Regions from separate parts of the Homo sapiens genome. Here regions 2, 3, 4, 5, 6 and 7 are each reported to be linked to region 1. Evidence: microRNA targets listed by miRTarBase, many of them from high-throughput screens and not tested one by one. Region 1 holds a microRNA gene; each other region holds the end of a gene's coding sequence.

Region 1 (3,084 bases):
TAGCTGGGACTACAGGCATGTGCTACCACGCCTGGATAATTTTTCTATTTTTTATAGGGACTGGGTCTCACTATGTTGCCCAGGCTGATCTCAAACACCTGGGCTCAAGCAATCCTCTTGCCTTGGCCTCCAAAAGTGTTGGGATTACAGGCATGAGCCACCGTGCCCAGCCCACATATGTATTTTCTTCTCTCTGGGAAACTAGCCTTCGTTTTCTCCAATTATTGACTTATTTCTTTTTCACCCAGGCTTTGTGTTAAGCTCCTGGATCTCTATGAAACCGCTGCTGATACTTCTATTAGCTTCTGTTAAAAGAAATGAAAAACTTCACCTTACAGGTTTCTTTCAGCATCTCTAAAAGTCTCTGTTGTTAATATAGTATTGAGACTTATCCCCACCATAGTCATTTGCATAAAATTATTATACTGTATATAAAAGTTTAAGATGTAACTTTAAATGAACATGAATTATAGGTATGGATAATTGCATTAATTTTGGAAATTTGTGTTGAATTTTCTTCTCTAAGTGGATATCTCTTAGTGCTGCTCAACAGTTAGCCCATTTTATCTCTTCATTTATGTTGGCCATTTTTCATTTATATCTTCTGAAAAAAATTCATGTATATGTTCTGAAAAAATAACACACTGTATACAATTAATTGTATTTGCCCAATTTTTTAGAATATTTGTTTATATGTATACTTACAGGCTTAAAAAAATCATTCACATGGTCCAAAGTGACTGATGTTTAAAAGTGACAGCTATATGAGGGAAAACGTATATGGACAGATATATGTCATATAATCATGCCATACACACACACACACACACACACACACACACGTGGGTGTGAATGAATGCCATCTTCTAAGATCTGTACATTTGACCACTATTAATCTGTGGTTCTTGAAAATTAATGAGATTAATTCATAAACCAAGTGATTTTTGAAGCCTGCAGTCTGGCGAGTCAGGTTGGTTCTGTTCCTTTAGATAGCTTAACTGAGTACAAAATTTGGGGTATAGCATTTCAGAAGATCCTGCTGTTTCTACCATTAGTTTTGAATGTTTATTGTAAAGATACTTTTCAACTCTAATGGGAGAGACAGCAGGATTCTCCCAAAAATTCAAGTAAAAATCTGCACGAGGAAAAGAAGTCTCCTGAGATGGATTGAATTCTTCTGAAGAGAAAAATATATAATTTACTACCACCTAAAATATGAATGAAGATATATGTGAGGAGCTTTTTAGAGGAGAATTTATCTTATATTTATTATCAGAAAGTGCTGTGAATTTAAAATCTTTCTTTTGCCCAAGTCAAACAGAATTTCCAGTAATAATGAGAAACGTGTGACTCTTGACCATTTTGTTTACCAAATAATGTAGTGTGAGATATCTCTACTACAGTAATAACTTCCGGTGTAATTTACATTGGCGTTTGTTAACAGCAAAAGACCTCTCCTGTGGGGGTTAAGAATATTTAATCCTTTAAAGCTGACATATATAACATGTAGCTATGTCAGCTACAGCTGTTTCTAAACATCAGTAACAAAATTATAGACAGGTTTTGAAGCTTCTGTGGTGGGAATGAATACATCTGAGGATTCAACTTGCTGACAGTGTTTTTGTAATTTAATCTTACCATCTGGTAGAAAGTAAACATTTTTTATAAAATTAAAGTTTATAAAGTGAATCGCTTATAGTTTCCGATTGTTGTGAATGACAAATTTAAGTGTACTTTCATTGAAGAATGAATGGAGATTCTGCCACTGTTTTGAGATGCATACTAGATCGCAACTGATTTTGCCATTTGATCTTCATTGGTTCCTTGAACAGTAAACAAATTGGCACTTTCATGTCAGCTAAGGATTCTGTGTTTCATATGTCTTTCATTCCTTTAAGATAGCATACATGTTGTTACTTGTTTTGCACAGAAGAAACTAGGGCTTGGCAATTTGTATGTCGGTAATGTCAGATAAGTGATGTCACAAATAGAATGTACCTCTGAACTGAAAATAAATGATTTTTTCATTGCATTTCATACTTTCTTCTATAACGTAGTTATATTTGTATAATATGCATTTAGCTATTGTCTAAACTATTATGGTGTAATCCAGTGTATTTGCTTTGCAAGTAGCACCTTTCTTTCTCCTTAGAAGTTGGCAAATTAGCAGATTTGTGAAATTGACAAATTGGTTTACAAACCCTGCCAAATTCAAACTTTATAAATCTGATCTACGCCTTTTACTTGAAATAAATATACACGCTGATAGACTCTTGTGTTTATAGTTGTGCCCTGTGTTAAATTGAAAGCCTACACTCTATGATGATGTAATAAAATTTAATTAGTTGTAAGTCAGGTTTTGGTTAATGGTAATTAGTTTAGTGTATAATTATTACATCTAATAGCAATCTGAAGTCTGCAAGCATTTTGATCTTTTTCCAAGTAAAAAGAAAAAAAACCACAAAGCTCCTGTAAGATTTATAGCAGAAATTGCAATAATAAAATCACATTAGCTAATTTCATTAGATAAATCACAGAAAATGTTAAGTGGCAAAGTAAAATTTCAGTGATGATGTACATGTGTTATGTTGAGCTGGTACATAAAATATTTTTAAGTGAGTTTTTTTTCTTTTCAATTAAAACTATCTAATGCGACTTTTGATGCTTCTTACTATTTAAAATACATCATCGGTAGTTTTGCATGGCAAAATTAAATGTTATTCCCATAACAGCTATTGTAGAGTGATCATCAGGGTCAATACATGCTTTAAAAATCAAAGAAATTTTATTAATAAATTTGAAAAATACCTTTAATTCACTGAGTTCTGACCCATAAAATTTTTACAGGAAGTATTGCCTGCTTCCAACAGAATAAAAAGTAGCTTTCAGCTAACAAGGCAGTAACACAAAAATATATTAATACCACGTAAGTAAATGTACATGAGCTTTTAAATTAGTATGTTTAATAAATTAAAAAGCATAATGTCTCCCTGAGTTACTAGATACTGTTATATTTAATTAGTCTATGAGCCCAAGATTAAATCAGGGAGCTAGTCATATTATACTTTTGGCATTTTCCTACTT
Region 2 (3,084 bases), not on the chromosome of region 1:
CACCACTGCACTCTAGCCAGGCGACAGAGCGAGATTCCATCTCAAAAAAAAAAAAATCTTGTAAAAGGTGCCAACCAGGGTGCCTGCCCTAACAGGGATCAGCTCCATCTCTACCTAGGAAGTAGAGAAACACTCAGATCTTGTAGGTCTTTTCCCATTGTCTGTAGTCCTTATCTATAAGATGGAAAAATAGTGCCTACCTCGTGGCACATAAAGCCATGTGGTAGTACCAAGAATGAGCAGCTATCACTTTTTGAGCAATGAAGTCTCCCCTTCAAGTCCTCATTTAACCCTTCCAACTCCCCTATTAAGTACTATTGTTTTACAAATCACAAGGGAAAAACTCAGAGTCTTGACTTGCCCACCATGACACAGCTGGTGAGCAGAAAGGGCTGAGGCAACTGAGCATCAGCCTTCCTCTGCAGCCCCAGCCTCGGGAGTGTGCTGAGCAGGAGAGGTTCCCCGGGGGCTGGGTTAGTAGAGCTGGGCAAGGAAGGGGCAAGGCAGGGGCCAGGTGTGGTGGCTCACGCCTTTAATCCCAGCACCTTGGGAGGCCGAGGAGGGCAGATCACTTGAGCTCGAGTTCAAGACCAGCCTGGGCAACACAGTGAGAACCCATCTCTACTAAAAATATAAAAAATTAGCCTGGCATGGTGGTATGAGCCTGTAGTCCCAGCTACTCAGGAGGTTGAGGTGAGAGGACTGTTTGAGCCCAGGAGGTTGAGGCTGCAGTGAGCCAAGATCGTGCCACTGCACTCCAACCTGGGTTACAGAGTAAGACACCATCTCAAAATAATAAAATTAAATTAAAAAGAGAAAAGGGCAAGGCAGGAACTAGGAAGGGATTCAGCAAGGGCTCTATGCCTGGGAAGACAGGGCAGAGAGAGAATGAGGAGAGGAGGAGGGCTACTTCGGTCAAATCTAACCCCTGAGTGCTCAAACCAAGCCATTTTACAACTACCAAATACACTGCTGTAAAACCCTGTTTTTCTCTCCCAAGGCCATAGCTCAAGACTAGGTCAGTCTCAAAGGGGAAAGCAGGCTGGCTTCGCCTGTGCCCTCCCCATTTTGCACAAAAACGTCCAGATGAAAACCCACCTCCCTCCACCACAGCACCTCTTTGCTCTCCAGCCCAGAAAGCATTTCTAGAATACATTGTCTTTCCACAAAGGGAGTGGAAGCCCATCTTGCAGCTTCTAAAAACCTGGACTCAATTTTCTGATCTTGTGGAATAAAAACTTAGAAGCACTCAAGTCCTGTGGCTCTACTAGGATTCTGTGCCCATCAGCATTGGCCCAAACCATTTGTCCAGGTCCCCCCCCCCCGGTTTAGCCCAAGTGCCCTCTTTATTAAGGACATCCCCATATGCTTTTCTGCCCCTCTCCCACCTTCCACCAAAATGCCAAACCGTGCTCCAAAACAAAAGCCAAATTTATTCAGCAGACATTTTAATTATGAAATCCTATAAATCAGGACCACCACAATTTCAGACACTCCGTTGCGAAGTGTACATCAATAGCTACATCTGGAGGATGAACAAGCCATTGAATCTTTTAAAAATTGGTTTAGCTACCTTAAAGTTTGGGGGTGGCACCTTACAAAAGCGCCGTCAAGTTTCATACAGCCAGCGGCTTCTTCTCTGGGAGAGTCACATTTTAAAACCGGTTTCAGACACAAAAGAAGGGCTGGCACGGGAGGAGGAAATAAATTGTGAGGGTGAGGAGCCGCCGAGGCCGAGGCCCATGACTCCATGGAGGGCCAGAAGAGAGCAGAAAAACGTCCAGGGTCTCTCATGCATTCCTATAGACACCAGAAAGGGTGGAATAAGAAAGCTCAGCTGGGAGGACAAGAAAGAGACTCAAGAGATCGTTTATGACTGTTTCTGAGAAAGCTCCTGGCATGGCCATGAGTGGCCTTCCGGGAGTCCTGTAAAAAGGAAAGCACAGAAAACAGGAAAGAACTCTCCCTACACGTCCCTCTCTGCCTGTTTGTGTCCTCGGGAGACTCCAAGCGGTGGTAAAGCACCAACAGGGCTCTTCTTGGAGCAAGAGAAAGAAAAGACTCCGGGGTGAGTAAGCTCTCCCAGGAACCCCACAGCAAACCGTGACCTTGAACACAGATGGCAAGGTCAAGTCATTTACAAGTCCACATTCAAATCCAAATCTCCCACCTGCAAAATTCTTCACCTCTCTCCAGTCCCTTAATTGGAGTTCACATCTCCCACCTTCACCAGCCACCGAATCGGTGGGAAAAAGGGGCAATGCCAAGCCACCCACCACCAAACTTTTACATTCTTCTCCCCTCTGGAATTTCTTTGCACAGCAATTGTAGCACCACTTACTAAGCTCCTCCACCAGAAAATAAGAAAATGTATGCGTGTCGTTAGTTTTCAAGTATTGTTATAAAGCCATCGCGATTCCTACCCCTGAGCCCTCCTTAAACAATCCAAGCTCACGACGCCCCCAAGGGCTAAGTGAGGTACAAGTCGATGCAAGTAGCTGCCATAGTTCTCCCAGTTTATCCCAGGTCCTTGGGCTTGGATGGCCCGGGAAATTCTCATGCCCCACGGAAGCACCCTGGCGCATACATTTCTCCACGCTTAAGTTTTCTCCGACGGCCTCGCCGCGGCTGGTAACTTCTCTGGTTGAGATCTCTCCCCACGCGCCTCCCCGCAGCCAAAGTGGTCGCTCCCAGGCTGGCGACGTCGGCTTCAGCTCAGAGTTAGTAGGAACTGGACGCTGTTGGGTCTACGCAGCGGCCTCCACTTCCTCCTCCAGGAGGCCTGCGTCAGAGCAAGGAGCCTGAGGGCTGCAGGGCAATGCGGTCAGGTCCGCTGCGGCCTCCCCCGGGCCCAGGGGCGCTTGCGGGGCCCGTGGCTGCAACCGCGGCGACGGCTCGTTGGAGTCTCCGCACGGCTTCCTTGATGAGGTTTCCCGAGAGCACGAGCTGCTGGAGGAGCCGATGCGGGTCGTCGTCGCCGGCGCGTGCCCCGGCTTGGGTCCATCGGCGCTGCTGCAAGCGGCGGGAGGTGACCGCGTCCCTGAGCCATCCTCGCCGGCACGGCCCCGGCAGCGCGCTGGGGCC
Region 3 (3,084 bases), not on the chromosome of region 1:
TACTGTCCTCCCTTTAGAGATGAGCCTCCAAGAAGTTACATTACTTGCCCAGGATTATAGGTAGTAAGTATTAAAGCCAGGTTATAAACTAAGGACTTTATAACCTTGAAACTACTTATTTATCTGCTTACTACAAGTTTGGTAAATGGATAGTCTTGCTTTTTGCTATTATACAAATTAGGTAGCAAGTCAAACCGCCACTGTTTGAGTTGCAAATACAAGACGTAACAAGTAAAATACTGTTACGTGGTGGGTCTCTGTGGCAGGCTTCCTCTCCCCCCCATATGGATAATTGTATACTAAATTCACCATAAGGTGAAAAATGGATATTGAGTTCCCTTCATGAAAAGTTATATAAAATATATATTTAGCATAAACTTCTCCAGAGTTGTCCTTTATTAAGTTTCTTTACAGAAACTTTAATTGGTGCCATGATTCTTGTGGGGGAAAGAATCATAAGAGCCATCAACTTTTTTCCTTTCATTTTAGCATATTCCAAGCCCTGCCAAGAAAGTACCAAGACTCCCTGCCACAGCAGCAGAACCTGAAGCAGCTGTCATTAGTAATGGGGAACATTAAGATACTCTGTGAGGTGCAAGACTTCAGGGTGGGGTGGGCATGGGGTGGGGGTATGGGAACAGTTGGAGGAATGGGATATCTGGGGATAATTTTAAAGGATTACATGTTATGTAAATTTTTATGTGACTGACATGGAGCCTGGATGACTATCGTGTACTTGGGAAAGTCTCTTTGCTCTATTTGCTGACATGCTTCCTGTTGTGGTCTGGCCAATGCCAAATGTACTCGAATGATGTTAAGGGCTCTGTAAAACTTCATACCTCTTTGGCCATTTGTATGCATGATGTTTGGTTTTTAAACATGGTATAATGAATTGTGTACTTCTGTCAGAAGAAAGCAGAGGTACTAATCTCCAATTAAAAAATTTTTTAACATGTAAGAATTTTGTACTTTGAACAACAAGATTACAGAAAGTACCTGTGGTTTTTGGAAAACATTTCTAGCTTGGGGAATGTGACAACATTCCCCAGTGTGGTAAAATTGGGGTAAAATGTGGTAAAATGTGATACGCACAAACCCTTTGAAAATAGCAAAACAAACATGCCCTTTTTCTAAAATTGATAAATCCTAAAGAGGAAGAAAAGAGCTGGGACAATAAAACACTGGCTCTGGAATCTGGAATGTTAAGTCCAGGCCAGCAGTGACAAAAGTTATTGTAATGACCTCTGAACAGAGAAACACTGCCATTGAAGAGGCTTCTGGTATAGAAAACATGGTACATTCAGGAGCTGTGAATATAGCTCTAGGTGTGCTCCTGAATCAGTTCATGGTAGATTATGCTGAACAACAGTGAGATGTTATTGGAGGTGTGGATGAGGGAGTTTGTTGTTGCAGTCCTTCTTTGCACCTTATTTTAAAGAATAAATGAAACATTTTTCTGGTTACTTTTTTAAAAATTTAAAATGGAAGGGAAGAATAGGGGCAGGGCATTATTAGGCTATTTCTGATGCTTCAGTGTTATAAATTCAACATAGAGGCTGACAACCTAAATTCATGGTGTAACACAGCTCTTTTCCTTTTCCTTTTTTTTTTTTTTTTGGTATCTGTTCAATGAAAATAAGGTATGACCCAAGTTTTTACCTAGTCTGACTAGAAGTATTCCACTTCAAGGTCTGAAGTAGGACTTTTACCTTAAAAAACAACAACAAACAAAACTATCACACAGGATAGATAAGAAGATTGGTTAAACAGTTTTGTGTAGATCTTTTTGGTGCTGAACTATGACATGAGCCTTATAGATTGTAAAATAGGGATAGTTGGAACTAATGTACAGAACTAAATTTTTTAAACTTTATTTGCTGTTAAATTCTGTGAAGTTTCAGTTATCTAAAATAAATATACACAAATATGAAATATAATGTTTCAGATTGCAAGGTAATATGTAATAGTAGTGTTTGTAAGATACTCTTGTCTAATATTAACTAGTAGTATTTTGATTTGTACAGTCATAATTTGTTAAAATGACTTCATTTAACATTCACTGATGTAGATTAATAATGTAAGTTCTGATTTAAAGAATGGTGGCAAAATGGTGCATGTAATACTTTTGCAAGTGTTGGGGAGATCGGTATGTTTTGAAAAGAGTAATTTAACTTTTGGGTGCCAGGAAATGGGTTTTCTCAAAGTCCATTGCCGGCAATGGGCAGGCCTGCAAATACTGGCACAGAGCATTAATCATACACCTTATTAACGGTGAGGTGAATAACTTTGAAATAAAGTTTTAGAGAAATGTTTCAGATACTTGAGTATTCTTTTTCACTCTTGAACTAACAACTTCGGCAAGAAATCAGCTAATATTCTATTTTTAAATATGGGCATTAATTTCATTTCAGTTCGTTCACTCATTCCATTCATTTATCATTTCACAAACATTTGAAATCCTAATATAAGCAAGGTGCTCTGTTTAAGGCAGAAATTTGAAAATGTACAAGATATATGGTCTTGTCTTTAAGGAGCTGTTCATCTAGAATGGAGGAATTTACACTGATAATTATTCCTACACTTGAAACAAAGAAATTAACTCTCAAATTGCGTGGCAAGCATATATAGACTTTGCTATAAATATTTATGAAATGAGTTACTGTTTTCCTTAAAAAAGCTAAGACTAAGGGCTGGCAATCAAATAAGAGCAAATTTAGTGGTGAACGTAGAACTGCCCACTACCAGCTAGAGTCTCCAACCTAAAAGTCCCATGTTGCTAGTGATCCCCAGGGGTTTTATAGAAGGAATCCCTGCATTGGCAGTAATTTTGGATTAGATGATCCCTAAGAGCACCATCAAGTCTTAGGATTCTATGAATTAGGAAATAAACCAAATTATATATTTTCTAATACTGATCAGCTCATATTTTATCATCATGTCATGTCTGGCTTTCATACTTAGTCATAATTTACTTTCTGGGTCATTTAGAGGCTAGCGTTCTCTAAGGTCACTTCTGCTTGCACATTGTAGGATATTATTTAGTATGGCTTTAAGAATTCAATCTTTCCCCCTCTCCTTTATGGA
Region 4 (3,084 bases), not on the chromosome of region 1:
TTTTCTGTATTAATTTTATAGGATTTAAAATTAATACATTTCCACTTTCATTTAAGTGTTTTTACATTATTTCTGGGAAAATAAAAATTAAGGGAGATTTTAAAGGTTCTCACAAAAAAACAGACAGAGCTTTCAAGAATCGCAGGGCAATGAATCACGGATCACAAAATTGTAAGTTAGTTTAAAAAAAAAAAAAAAAAAAAAACACATTATGGGGGCCAAGAAGGTACAGGAATTTCCTATAAGATAGGCTAGGAAAACCCATGCCTTGACTTTGACTGGCATTTGGGCTGGAGTTCACACCTGCCTAAAGCACTTGGTTTAAAACTAGACTAAATCAGTCTAGCACTTCAGAGGTTTGCCAAACACCAAATATTTTGATTTCTAACCCTAAAAATATAACTCTTGAATACAAACATCAATGGCAAAGAGAAAGATGAAAGGTAAAAACCTAAGCACACAGGGGATGGAGCACCATAATGAGGTGACAAGGCAGCTATCGGGTGGGAAGACAATTTCTAAATCTCCTACAATGTGCTAGATGCATACGGACCAATAGCCAACTGAAGGGACCCCAAAAACTGTTTTCTGTTCTCCCAGATTCGTCTTAACATAACCAAGTTCTAATTAACCGAGTTTGTTTTATGAATGTATGACACTGATTCAGACCTATGTGGTGTCTGGGCACGGTGGCTCACGCCTGTAAACCCAGCACTATGGAAGGCCGAGGCAGGTGGATCACGAGGTCAGGGTTCAAGACCAGCCTGGCCAAGATGGTGAAACCCCATCTCTATTAAAAATACAAAAAATTAGCCGGGCGTGGTGGTGGGCGCCTGTAATCCCAGCTACTCGAGAGGCTGAGGCAGATAATTGCTTGAACCCAGGAAGCAGAGGTTGCAGTGAGCTGCAGAGGTTGCAGTGATCACACCACTGCAGTCCAGCCTGGGCAACAGAGCAAGACTCCGTCTTAAGAAAAAAAAACAACAAAAAAAAACAAACAAACAAAAAACCTGTGGAAGACTTAGTGATGTTCCAAATAAGGCCTCAGACTTTCCTTATCCACTTAAAACACATCTTTACCTTTTAATCAAAGCCAACTTGAGTGTTAAGTTTTTAAAGTTTGCTAACTGTAACTGAGAAATAACAGATCAGCCTGAACTTGCCGAGTGTGAAGTCATAATTAGCACCCGTTCTCTGGTCCACAGAGCCATCACTTCTTTTCCATCCCCCTCACTAGGTAAGACAGAGTTCCCTCTCAGGCTTCTCAAAGAGAACTGTGGGAGTCATGTCTGGATACTCATTTGCTTTTCAGAAAAACATAAAGACATGGAGGTGAAATTGTATGAAAACATTCTACCTAGAAACATCTTAACCTCTATGTTTCAATTACCAAAGATATTTAAAAGAAAATATCTTTACTCTTTAAAAATACTAGTGTCCTTATTTTCCTTCTAATTCTTCACCTGAGTAGTCTCTCTGAAGAGCATGACTTACAAAATGCTCTCTCATGCATCCCTGGATCTTTCATGTTATTGTAAATTTAATACTTTTCATTATAGATTTTAAACAACTACTACTTGGGGTTGTGTGTATAAATATGTAAAATAAGCAATACACACAGGTACATGATATATATGTGTATATATATAATTCAGGGTACATTTACATACATAAAGTTGCAAAAGATCCTATAAGCCATGAGTTACCTCTAGGAGATTCCAAAATGCAGTCCTCAGTAAGTGTCATTTGTAGCACACAACCATTCCAAGATGAAGCCGCACAGACAGAATAATCAAAATACAACATGAGCAAGCACAGTTTTTCAATAAGGTTTTCTAAAAGTTTGCTACGCTGACAAAAGATGTAAATAATCCAAAGAAAGCCAAAAGAAGTATATTTGAAAAGTAAACACGAACCCAGCCACTGCTCTTTACTCAGCAAAGCCAGGGACGCAACAGCTCAAATGGAAACTTTCACTGTCAAGTGGTCTGAAAATATTAAGCAAGACAAGTAAATGACTTCCATGTTATGATAATTAGACCTGACTGTAAAATCTCCCATTTATATTAGTAGATGTCTCTGACAATTTTATTGTGAGAAATGTATGGGGAAAAAAATGAGTCAACATGAATACTTTCAGAGTTACCAATATAAAGTTACCTTAAGTTAATGGTCTTAGAAGAGTACCATCAAGGTAAGCAAGGTAAATATTTAAATAAATATAAAATTCTAAGATATAAAACTTCGGTATAGAATCAGGGATTACTTTATTAAAAGTAACTAGCATGTTGCCAGTTTTCCCTATTTATTAAACAAACTGAATAGAATTCAGAACACACTACTGAGCAAAATGTATATTTAAAAAAAAGTCAACTAGAAGTAATAATTCTATTTGTACACAGCATAAATCAATATACAGTATTGTATGTGAATGAGACTGATTGGCTTTAAAATGAATTTTCTGCTTCAAGGCCAATATCTCTACAAACGTTCTGTAGAAGTATTGTTAGGGCAGGCCAACTTCTTTATGATGTCGCATTATGTGCTGGTTCTTTTCTGAAGGTCTTCGGAAGCCTTTCTTGCAGTACTCACACCGGTGAGGATAGTCTTTCGTGTGAATGGAAATAACGTGCCGTTTAAAGCCTGAGGCATCTGTAGTGCTATACTCACAGTACTCACACTGATACACTTTCCTGCCACTGTGTGTCTTCATATGCTTTTTAAGCTCACTCTGTTGCCTAAATCCCTTTCTACATCTCTTGCACCTAAATGGAAGATCCTTTGTGTGAACTGAGAGAATATGGCGACTTAGAACAAATGGATCTGCAATCTTAAAGTCACAATGTCTACACTGGTGCATTTTTTTGCCCTTGTGGGCAGCCACGTGTTTCTTGAGTTCTGAAGGCCTGTGAAAGCCTTTATCACACATGTCACACTTATGGGGGTAGTCTTTCGTGTGAACTGAAATTATGTGTCGTTTCAAATCACTTGAGTTCGAACTCTTGTGGTCGCAATGCAAACACTGGTGTGTTTTGCTTTCTTGGTGGATAAGAGCATGTTGCTGCACCTCTTTGGTATCCGAGA
Region 5 (3,084 bases), not on the chromosome of region 1:
AACAAACAAAAAACCCCTCAAACCCAACAAAACCCAAAAACAAACAAACATATTCTTGACTTCCATCCCCAATTTTAAAACAACAGTTTTTCTACAACTCAATGCTCGCCGGCAGCACGGGAAGTGGTATGTCGGACGCACATACGCACACGCATGCTCACACGCACACATATTGGATATACATACGCAGGTGTATGTCCATCGAATATATAGAACGCATGTAATGGCAATGAGATGCAGTCACTCTGAGGAAGGTTGGTTTTTCTAAATATCCTACTAAACTTGAGAAAAAAAGTCTTGAACCCAGTTTGTGCATAGTTCATGATCCTCTATAAAACCAGCTTTTGTGGATCTGCAGTCTTGCAGGACTTTTTTTTTTTTTTTTGTATTTTTTTTGTTTTGATAAAACCATTAAAAAGCTAATTAAAAAAATGTAATGCACAAGTTTCCTGATCAAGCAGGCAGGGAGCACAATGTTCATATATATATTTTTTAAAACATACTTGAAGGTATGTTATTCCATTGTCTTTCTTCCTTGCAAAACAATCAAAACATTGATCATTTTTAAAACATAAAGCAATTTTTAATATATAAAGCACTCTTCAAACATCTATTTCTTTTGAGTCCATTATTTGGTAAATATGTAACTGCTACACATTAGAGATTAGGTATTTTTCTTCTTTGTGTTTTTTTTTCCTCTTTTTCTTTTTTTTCATTTTTTTGTTTTGTTTTGTTTTTTTTTTTTTTAAATAACATCTTCAGTGCTAGGAGTTGGGTTTAAAAATACATGAAATGGTGTGGAGCTGCCCTCGGGAGCCCTGGCTTTCCTGAGAGCGCGTCCGGCATGTGCAAGACAGTGGCCACAACGCCTGTCACCTTGACGAAGGGGCGAAAGCAATCGACAGAGTCCACGACGATGGCCGAGGGAACAACACTGTCCCGTCCCAGAGCTCTGAAGGAACGCATCTGCATTCTGAAAATAGGTTTCTTTACGACGGAAGTCTTTTTTTTTTTTTAATTCCTTTTTAAATTTTTAAAATTTTAAAGTCTGAAGGAGAAAAAAAGGTCTGTAAACAGGTGGGAGCCCAAACCCCAGGCTCCCCCAAAAGCAGTCACAACCCACGCCCAAGTGCTTGTTTCTGTTCCTTCCACGGAACCATCCATTCTTTACAAGTATCTATGGCCACAGTTCAACAACAGTTTTTTTTTTTTTTCTCTTTAACTTTATATTCCAAATGGAAAAATGGTGCAATACTCTGGTAATAATTTTCTTGCATTAGTCCACAATAAAAAGCTGCTAAAGGTAGGTATACATGTTATTTCTCCAGAGATATACACTGTACTTTTTAAACGCAGTCACAGAGTCCTTGAGTAAACATTTACACATGAATTGTCGCCAGCCCTGTCCTAGGAATTCTCTGTAATGTATAGGATTAGCTAAAGGAAGGGCGAGGACACTCAGTGCAAAGTTAGAAGCTAATAATAACAACCGTTTGACCAATGCGCCAAAAAAAAAGCGTATACTGAATACAAGGGAAAACCCACAGTTAAATCCTCACACGCTTTCAAACACACAAACACAGAAAACTGCACGCCGTGCAGGAGCACGCGCCACACATGCACACACACACACACTTCTGTTTCAACACGCACACATACACACACGTAGGCTATGAACTTAGAAATTTTTCCTAGAGCCTGTTTCTGTGTACTGATGTCAACCTGGAAGTGTAGAATTAGAAAGTGTTCACATTTCACTATTGGCCTGCTGGATTCAAGTATTTGCATGTTTGATATGTCTTTTTTTAACTTTTAAAAAATATTTTTTGGGATAAAAAAATGACATGAAAAAGTAATGAAACAAGGGTAATGTGCATAGGCGGATCCAGGGGAACAGAGAGCAGATCGCAGCCCGCGCCTTCCGCTCAGCTCCCGCCGCGGAGCCGCTCTGCGCCCGGCGGTCCACACCAGACTCTGCCCTGATTACCGGCCGCCTCTGGTCATGTGCATAATCGTCACAGGCTCATTTTAAATAGGCTTCACGTCTCCCTCCCTCCCCCACAGATAAAATAACCCTTTCCAGCCCACAATCTGAAAAGTGCCCTTCATGATAGAACTATTCTAAGCAGCTTTTATACTTAAAAAAAAAAAAAAAATCAAAATGACAACACACTATACAAACATAAGACGCACAAAATAAAAAGCTACGAGGAACATCCTGTCATTAGCATGTGACGCTGACCCACCGCAGCCCGCACTGTTTTGCGAACAGTTCGCAAGGACTGCGGCCAAGGTTCGTCTTCAGTCCTGGACAGAGGTACTCAAAAGGGCGGCCGCTGCTGGGTTCCAGCGGGTCTGTGGGGCCGCCCAGCCGGGAGGGGTCCCGGGAGGGGTCGGCTCTCCTGGTGCTGATGATGGCAGAGCCTACAGGGACTCCCCGCTGAGCAGGTCCCCAGGCAGCAGGGTGGTTAGCGGCGTGGGGCTGCCTATCACCCTGCTGTCGTCGGCGCTGGGCGGGCCCCACAGGCTGCTGGAGTACTGGGGCACCCCGCCCCACAGCAGCTCACTGCTCCCCTTGCCACCCAGGCACGGGGCGTTCCAGTGGCCAGCGTCGCTGCGTACCAGGCCATGGGAGCTGCCCGCTGCGCTGAGCCGCGGCTGGCTGGACGCGCTGCTGGACTGCCAGCTGGAAGTGGGTGGCAGCGCCTGGCCTTGGGCTAAGAAGCGATTCACTTCTTCTTCACCAGCGAACTCGGCCAGGATGGTAGTGTTTCCCAGGACGCACCTGCAACAGCAAGATGGGGCACGTGAACAGGGCCACCCCAAGTCCTGCTGAGTTCGTGGCACTGGCTTTCTCTGTATTGGGAACGGCCCCACATGGAAGCCATCCTGTGGCTTCTGTTTTGCCACTGCTATTTCCAAACCCAGACTGTGAATGTTTTGCTCAGTTCAGACTTCTAGTGGCAACATCGTACTGGTACACAGAGTACATCTTCAAGTGCGTGAACAGATCATTAAATGTGGGCTCGTTTAGGGTCAGTGTCATTTGCATCCTGGGCTAAAAACAGGAATGACTAATTTCTA
Region 6 (3,084 bases), not on the chromosome of region 1:
GCCAGAATGAGTCAACATACAGGTGCTTTTGCTAGGGTTCATTAAAAAAAAAAAAGAAACAAAAAAACACTTGCCCCATTTGAATAATGATTTATCAGGCTTTAGGAAAACTAAATATAAATCAAAAACCTAAGGAAAAATCGATTCTTATTTTCAGATCTTTATCTATTAAGAGGGGATGAAGGGTGGGTAAACGCAGGGATGTAATGGGAGTAGTGTGTACCAATTGTGCAAAATAACTAAAACAATTATGAAATGCTTACATATTCCTGGCCAGTATAACTTGAATTATGAATGAACCATTAAAGACAAAGATTCTTAATCAACCATTTATCTTTTCCTTTTAAAATGTAAGGCATCAAACTTGGAAGATCTATAACTATTTTATTAGACGGTAATATATAAACAAATGACAGTTCAGATAATATTTTTAAAGTGCTATGATCATTGTAACTTTAATCAGATAAAACGTAATTATTATTAACATTTTTACATTATAGCTGATTTGTCTAAATTCTAATTACAATAAAATATATCGTTTTATCTTATCAAATAGTTTTTATATTGAGAGTGAAAGAAACAGTAAAATAGTCAGAGGAAAAACTAGTGCCATACCCAAAAGTATTACTTCAGAAATTTACTTTAATATCATATTTATATTAAAATATTTTATTTGTCTCCATGGTATTTCTATGAGATATTAGACTGTTTGTCCCTATATCCCTATTTTACTCATGGAGAAACAAACATAGTATGTTTAGTAAATTTTTCAAGGTCATTCACTATGTCAGAATAGCGCTGGGAATCTAATTTATTATATTTTTCTTGTACAATACAGCACCTAACACAGCGCCCTAAAAGAGTAGGTATTCAATAAACAGTCATTGAATGAAAGAATTAATGGACAAACCATTCTGTTCTATGAAATCTAAAACATCTATCATATTTGCTATTTCTTTACTCAGTAAATTCAGCAGGCTGGAGGAGCAGTTGAGCAATAAACTTTATGCACTCTCCTACCCACAAGTTTAGATTGTCACCTGAAGGGGCTTTGCAAGATGGTATTGTCTGGTCATTCCTGAAATTATACACTTCCAGGATGTCCCACATACCCCATAAAGAGAGTCATTAATCTGGTTCATGTGACACTGGCTTTCGTGGTGTGAATGTGGTCCACCAGCTTTTGGCAGAGACCAACTTCTTTCACAAAAGTCTCCAAAAATGCATTATTAGTAATGAATGTATTACTGATACCTAGCCTAATGATTTTTAGTGACTGTTTTATATCTTGGTCCTAAAGAACCGTAGTTAGTGGCAATCCTTGAAAATAAATCACTTGGCTAGTATTGGCTCTGGCTATCTCAGGCCTTGCTGATGGTAATTACAATGCTAGAAAGGATAACTCAATTTATTTCCTGAGTTAATTTGTCATAAGTTCAGTTGCAATTGTAAACATGATAAAGGTCACAGAGGCATGACTTTTAGAGTTGATAAAAACAATGTAGTAAAGAACACGAGTATTTATATTACCAGGAATATGACAAAAACATAACAGTCATTCCCAGGGATGCACTGTCGAGTAGATTAAAAATTGTTATCCATGTCATTGGCACTGATGACCAGTTACCTAAAATACAAGTAAGACATCTCACGAAGGCATTTAAGGCTAAAATGAATTCCTTAAACTTTGATGGCATTCATATTTTGCCATTATGAGAAAGAAAAACATTTTACTTCACAGAAAGAATGTATTAAAGTGAAATGAAAATATTTTTATATTTGTCACCCAAATTTAGTGATTGATCTAAAATTTCACCCAGGTGACATTTTTATTAAGACACAGTCTGGAGAAATTTCAGAATTCCACATCTCATTTGCTAATATTTTAAACAAACGATTCACCAGACCTGACTAATTGAATGGTGTATTTCCACTGGACTGAATGTCCTAATTATCATTCAAGACATATCTTAAAGATTTATCAAGCATTTACTCTCCACCTTACCATGTCTAAAGCTCAGAGATATTTTGAGCTCTAAAAGAGTATCACAAGAAATTTATAGCAGTCTGTAGTACAACTATTACCCATTCTTAGAGCAAAGCCACAACTAAAATAGAAATAGACAAAAATAAAATAAAATCATTAAGCATCAACTTATTGGGTAAATTAAGTTTAGATACCCATATGATGCAAAAGGGTCACTTTTATATAAGCTTCCCCATCTTTTAAACTTAGAGCACAGTCTATGTTGTCATTAAAAAAATAATAGCTAACTGAAGCCAGGAATTCATTTTGCAATTGTGTCAATTATTTTAAAGATACCATTATTAAGTAAACTTTAAATTAGTTTGTGTACAACCTTATAGTGACTGGAAATAAGATAAATACAAGCACCCCCTCCCACCGCAGCAAACACACATAACAGATTCTTGAGACTTAGACCCTTAAACATGTCTGCTCATCACTCAATCCATTTGGCCACCCTTTCCGTCCACACCAGGCCAAAGAGCAAAATGTTTTCACAGAAATTCTCTGGGTTGCATATTCTTAATTGCCTGAACTACTGTGGACAAAACATCACATTTTTAAAATCTTAAAGCACTTGTAAGGGTCATACATGTGTGTTTACTGTCCTTGTTGCTTCTGTCCTGGAGAATTTGCTTGACCAGAGCTCTCTCCAGGGCGGTCTGCAGGAGTGAAAGGAAACTGAAATCCATAGCCATTGTACCCATCCAAGTAGACACACTGGAAGAAACTGATGGGACCTAAGGAACAGAGCATGACAGTTTGTTAAAACATGCAGAACATGAGCAAAAAAGCACAGTGAGGCAGTGCAGTGCAGCAGATAAGGTCACAGATTCTGCCAGCAGCCTCCGTAGCTGTTGGCAAGTTACTAAACTTCACTGTGTCTTGGAGTCTTTATGTATAACATCAAAACAACGAAAACCGCACAGAAATATTATGACAGTTAAATGAGTTACATGAGTTACATGTGCTCTTAAAATTCTTCCTGGTATGTAATAAGCCTTTAATAAGTGATAATAAAAATGGCCTGGCAGAGAAAGTCAAAGTTCTGATCATAT
Region 7 (3,084 bases), not on the chromosome of region 1:
AAATTCAACCTCAAGTGCAGATTATTCTGTTATAAAAAAATGAGACAGTGAAAATCCTTCCATTGTCCAGCTTATAATAGAGTCCTTTTAGCTAAGAGGACTGGCTGACAGAATTTGGTTTTGCAGGGAATTTCTTTAGGAGGAGCTATTGGGGAAGGTCAGGAATGGCCCTATCTTTAGTTCTCCAAGAATGACCTGGGATGGGTAGGGGGTGCCTCCATTTCGGTTGGTTTTGAGTGTCTATTTTTCACATTAGTCTTTTTGATGATCCACATGTTGCAAAAGGAAAATGTAAAAAACACACCCCTCAAATTGCTTTGTTTCAGAATGCTTTTGCACCTTTGACTGATGCCAAGACTAGGAGCCATGCTGATGATGTGGGTCTCGTTCTTTCTTCATTGCAGGCTAGTATATACCGAGGGGGATACAACCGTTTTGCTCCATACTAAATGACAAAACCATAAAAACCTTCCAATGTGGGGAGAAAGGAAGCTTTCCGAGGCCTGAGTATTGCAATACATGCAGTAGTACATCATTTTAGCAACTCTAAAAAAAAAAAAAATACAAATAAAAAGGAAAAAAAATTACATTTTTTATCTTATACCTCAGATATTTTGTTCTGTGTATTTTAATATTGTGGGTCTTTAATTTCTGAAGGTTCCGTAGTTTGGTTGCTGGCTGTAGGAGTTTTTGTGGTTGATCTAGACAGATGCTAGATAATGAATAAAAACTGGTTTAGGGCCATATCCAGAGTGCTATATTATGTAAATGAATTATATATGCTGAATATTAAGCTACTGGGGTTATCAGCTATTTGGGAAGAGTGTAAGTGACTACAGTAGTCATTTTTTTCTGCACCTGCATTATTTTATTTTGCGAAAGGGGAGGTTGGGAGGGGCTTAGGGGATTGGAACTGGGGTTTGGCTGAAAGAAAAAAAAAAAAATGTAACTGATGAATCTAAACGACCCACTGCACCAACAATCATTTATCAATGGTTCTAAGTTACTCATTGCCAGTTCAAGCCAAAGGTCATGTTGTTAAGGGGGTGCTTCTAGTAGCACTTGTGCATCTGAGTTGAATGAAGCTGTGCAAACCCACCCTTTAAACCATTCCACCCGGCAGTATTCAGCTTCTTAACCAGTCGCTATTTAGGAAAAAAAACCCACTAGTTAGGCCATCAACAAGCATTCTTTTTATATTTCTTCCAGTATAATAAATTATTGATATCACTGCTGACTTTTATATTATGGGAGGGAAAAAATAACATTAATAAAAAGGTGATAAAAAAGCACTGTTTCTATTTTTTTCTTTTTTTCCAAAAAAAGAAAGTAATAAAAACTTAAATTCTTTGTACCAGTTAAAAAAAATGTATAAAATTTACATCTGTGCAGTGGAGTTGTTAAGTTCTAGAAACAGTCTATGAAGCTTTAGTTTTAGCCTAGTAGAACAACTGTTAGAGACAGACGTATAATTTTTATGGAATTACATGATAATCATATTCGGATTTATAGAAGCATTTTACAAGTATTGCAATCATTGAGTAGAGATAATCATGGTATTTTCATCAGCTTGGTACTTTTTGAAACGTGACTGCGTTGTGTGAACAATCTGCAATTTTTCAGTCCGTGAGATCCTGCCCTTCCACCTCTTTCCCATACCCCCAAGGATTATCTCAAAATGATCTCTTTAGTTCTGTCTCCAAGGCCCAGGACACTTGTCAGAAGGATGCAAAAAAAGAAAAAAGTACATCCACCCTCTTAATCCCAAAAGAACAAAGTCTCCCCACCTTTCTCGGATGCAGGGCCAGAGTGACACAGCCGAAAAATTGCAGTTTGTCTGTACTTCTGTTTGAACTTTCCACGTTGTCCTGTTTACAAGTTAACTTAAGTTGGGGTATCCGTCACGGGTCTTCCTGTTTTGTATTTAAATAAAAACAACAGCAGCAGGCTGTCCCTGAGTAGTTTTGCTGCCATAGGTTAAGTCCTCATGTGTACAGTGCAGGCCCTGTGGCCCGCACTTCAGTAAGTTATCAACTCTCACCGCTGTGAACCTGCCAATCCGCTGTAACAACTCTGCTTTAAAACAAAACCAAACAAAACTTTAAAAAAAAATGTGTGATCCAGCTTTCTCTTGCCATCCTATGTGCATGCCGTAAGATCAGTTGGATATTAAACCATCAATAAAGTTTCACAAGATTTGAAAACAAAGTTTCTGTAGCTTCGATACCTAAGACAGACGATAGTGATCTTGAAAAGAGAAAAGGGGGAGGGGGGAGCTACTTATCAGCCAAAAGCATATAAAGTGTTCTTTTCACCAGACTTCTTTGGGTGGGTGAGGGGAGGGGCAAGAGGGTGTTTTATAGCATCACTAAGACATTCTCATTCCCCCACCTGGAAAACAGTGTTATGGCAATGGGTGCCTGGTTGATGTTCTTAAAGGAAACGAATTATTAAAACACTATGACATCCTCCAGAGGGAAGAAAGAGTAGGAGCAGGGGGCTATGGAGAATAAATTTCTCCCAATTGCCGCCTCAGATTTCAAAATCCAGAATTTGTATTGTGTTTCGAATCACAAACATAGAATTCTTACTGTGTTGGTTAAAGTAAAATTCATTTGCAGTTTTGATTTTCATCAATGAGCTGTACTTTCCCCCATGACTGTATGTAGTTTTAATAAAATCATTTAGAGTGAGTGAGTGCCAACCGATGTTGCAGAATCTTTTGTCTAGGCACTCCAAGATGCCAATAAGTCATTTTAAAATGTATGTCAGAGATGTAAACAAACATTTTGGATTTTTTTTAAACAGTATTTATTTGGAATGTTTTCATTTATCTAAATAACTATTGCTATTATGAATTATGGAAAATTAATATTATGTGTGGCATATAGTGACTTCTTAACACACACATCACGCAATCTGCAAACCCAGAAAATGTGTATATCTGTCTTTAGAAATTAGTGTTTATATCACTTACAGTGGTTTGTGAATAAAGAAAACTGGTTTGTAATATCAAAAAAATAAAAGCTTAGTCTGAAAAGGTACAAGTTGGTGTTCTGAGTTATTTGGCTTCCATGGGTTTTC

Evidence for each region. Region 1 holds the annotated microRNA hsa-miR-1305 (UUUUCAACUCUAAUGGGAGAGA, at 1,081-1,102, shown strand). A microRNA usually pairs through its seed, bases 2 to 8, with sites in the 3' UTR of a target mRNA and lowers its output. Matches are read on the target gene's strand: a 7mer-m8 pairs with bases 2 to 8, a 7mer-A1 pairs with bases 2 to 7 and ends in A, and an 8mer does both.
Region 2: the mRNA of FRAT2 is a reported target of hsa-miR-1305. Seed matches in the 3' UTR shown: 7mer-A1 at 2,387-2,393.
Region 3: the mRNA of HMGCS1 is a reported target of hsa-miR-1305. Seed matches in the 3' UTR shown: 7mer-A1 at 1,100-1,106, 7mer-A1 at 2,154-2,160 and 7mer-A1 at 2,496-2,502.
Region 4: miRTarBase lists ZFX as a target of hsa-miR-1305. Seed matches in the 3' UTR shown: 7mer-A1 at 1,820-1,826.
Region 5: miRTarBase lists TNRC6C as a target of hsa-miR-1305. Seed matches in the 3' UTR shown: 7mer-m8 at 1,641-1,647.
Region 6: the mRNA of TRDN is a reported target of hsa-miR-1305. Seed matches in the 3' UTR shown: 7mer-A1 at 767-773.
Region 7: the mRNA of RBFOX1 is a reported target of hsa-miR-1305. Seed matches in the 3' UTR shown: 7mer-A1 at 2,198-2,204 and 7mer-A1 at 2,249-2,255.

The regions. Positions count from the first base shown.
Region 1 is chr4:182,168,263-182,171,346 of GRCh38, forward strand. MIR1305 (microRNA 1305) reads left to right here and starts at 1,031; the gene lies at 1,031-1,116. It also overlaps a transcript of TENM3 not described here.
Region 2 is chr10:97,331,084-97,334,167 of GRCh38, forward strand. It overlaps FRAT2 (FRAT regulator of Wnt signaling pathway 2), which reads right to left. Exons shown (of 1, transcript NM_012083.3): 1 at 1,414-3,084. The coding sequence ends at 2,788. Among named protein-coding and RNA genes, the nearest start is that of FRAT2, 2.1 kb to the right of the region's middle. RefSeq lists an enhancer at 2,357-3,084 and silencers at 2,815-2,864, 2,875-3,004.
Region 3 is chr5:43,288,626-43,291,709 of GRCh38, reverse strand. HMGCS1 (3-hydroxy-3-methylglutaryl-CoA synthase 1) reads left to right here. Exons shown (of 11, transcript NM_001098272.3): 11 at 490-3,084. The coding sequence ends at 579. Among named protein-coding and RNA genes, the nearest start is that of HMGCS1, 23 kb to the left of the region's middle.
Region 4 is chrX:24,210,799-24,213,882 of GRCh38, reverse strand. ZFX (zinc finger protein X-linked) reads right to left here. Exons shown (of 10, transcript NM_003410.4): 10 at 1-3,084. The coding sequence ends at 2,507. Among named protein-coding and RNA genes, the nearest start is that of ZFX, 63 kb to the right of the region's middle.
Region 5 is chr17:78,104,186-78,107,269 of GRCh38, reverse strand. It overlaps TNRC6C (trinucleotide repeat containing adaptor 6C), which reads right to left. Exons shown (of 23, transcript NM_001142640.2): 23 at 1-2,785. The coding sequence ends at 2,425. Among named protein-coding and RNA genes, the nearest start is that of TMC6, 23 kb to the left of the region's middle.
Region 6 is chr6:123,215,975-123,219,058 of GRCh38, forward strand. TRDN (triadin) reads right to left here. Exons shown (of 41, transcript NM_006073.4): 41 at 365-2,766. The coding sequence ends at 2,627. Among named protein-coding and RNA genes, the nearest start is that of CLVS2, 220 kb to the left of the region's middle.
Region 7 is chr16:7,710,297-7,713,380 of GRCh38, forward strand. It overlaps RBFOX1 (RNA binding fox-1 homolog 1), which reads left to right. Exons shown (of 16, transcript NM_018723.4): 16 at 327-3,044. The coding sequence ends at 449. Among named protein-coding and RNA genes, the nearest start is that of LINC02152, 580 kb to the right of the region's middle.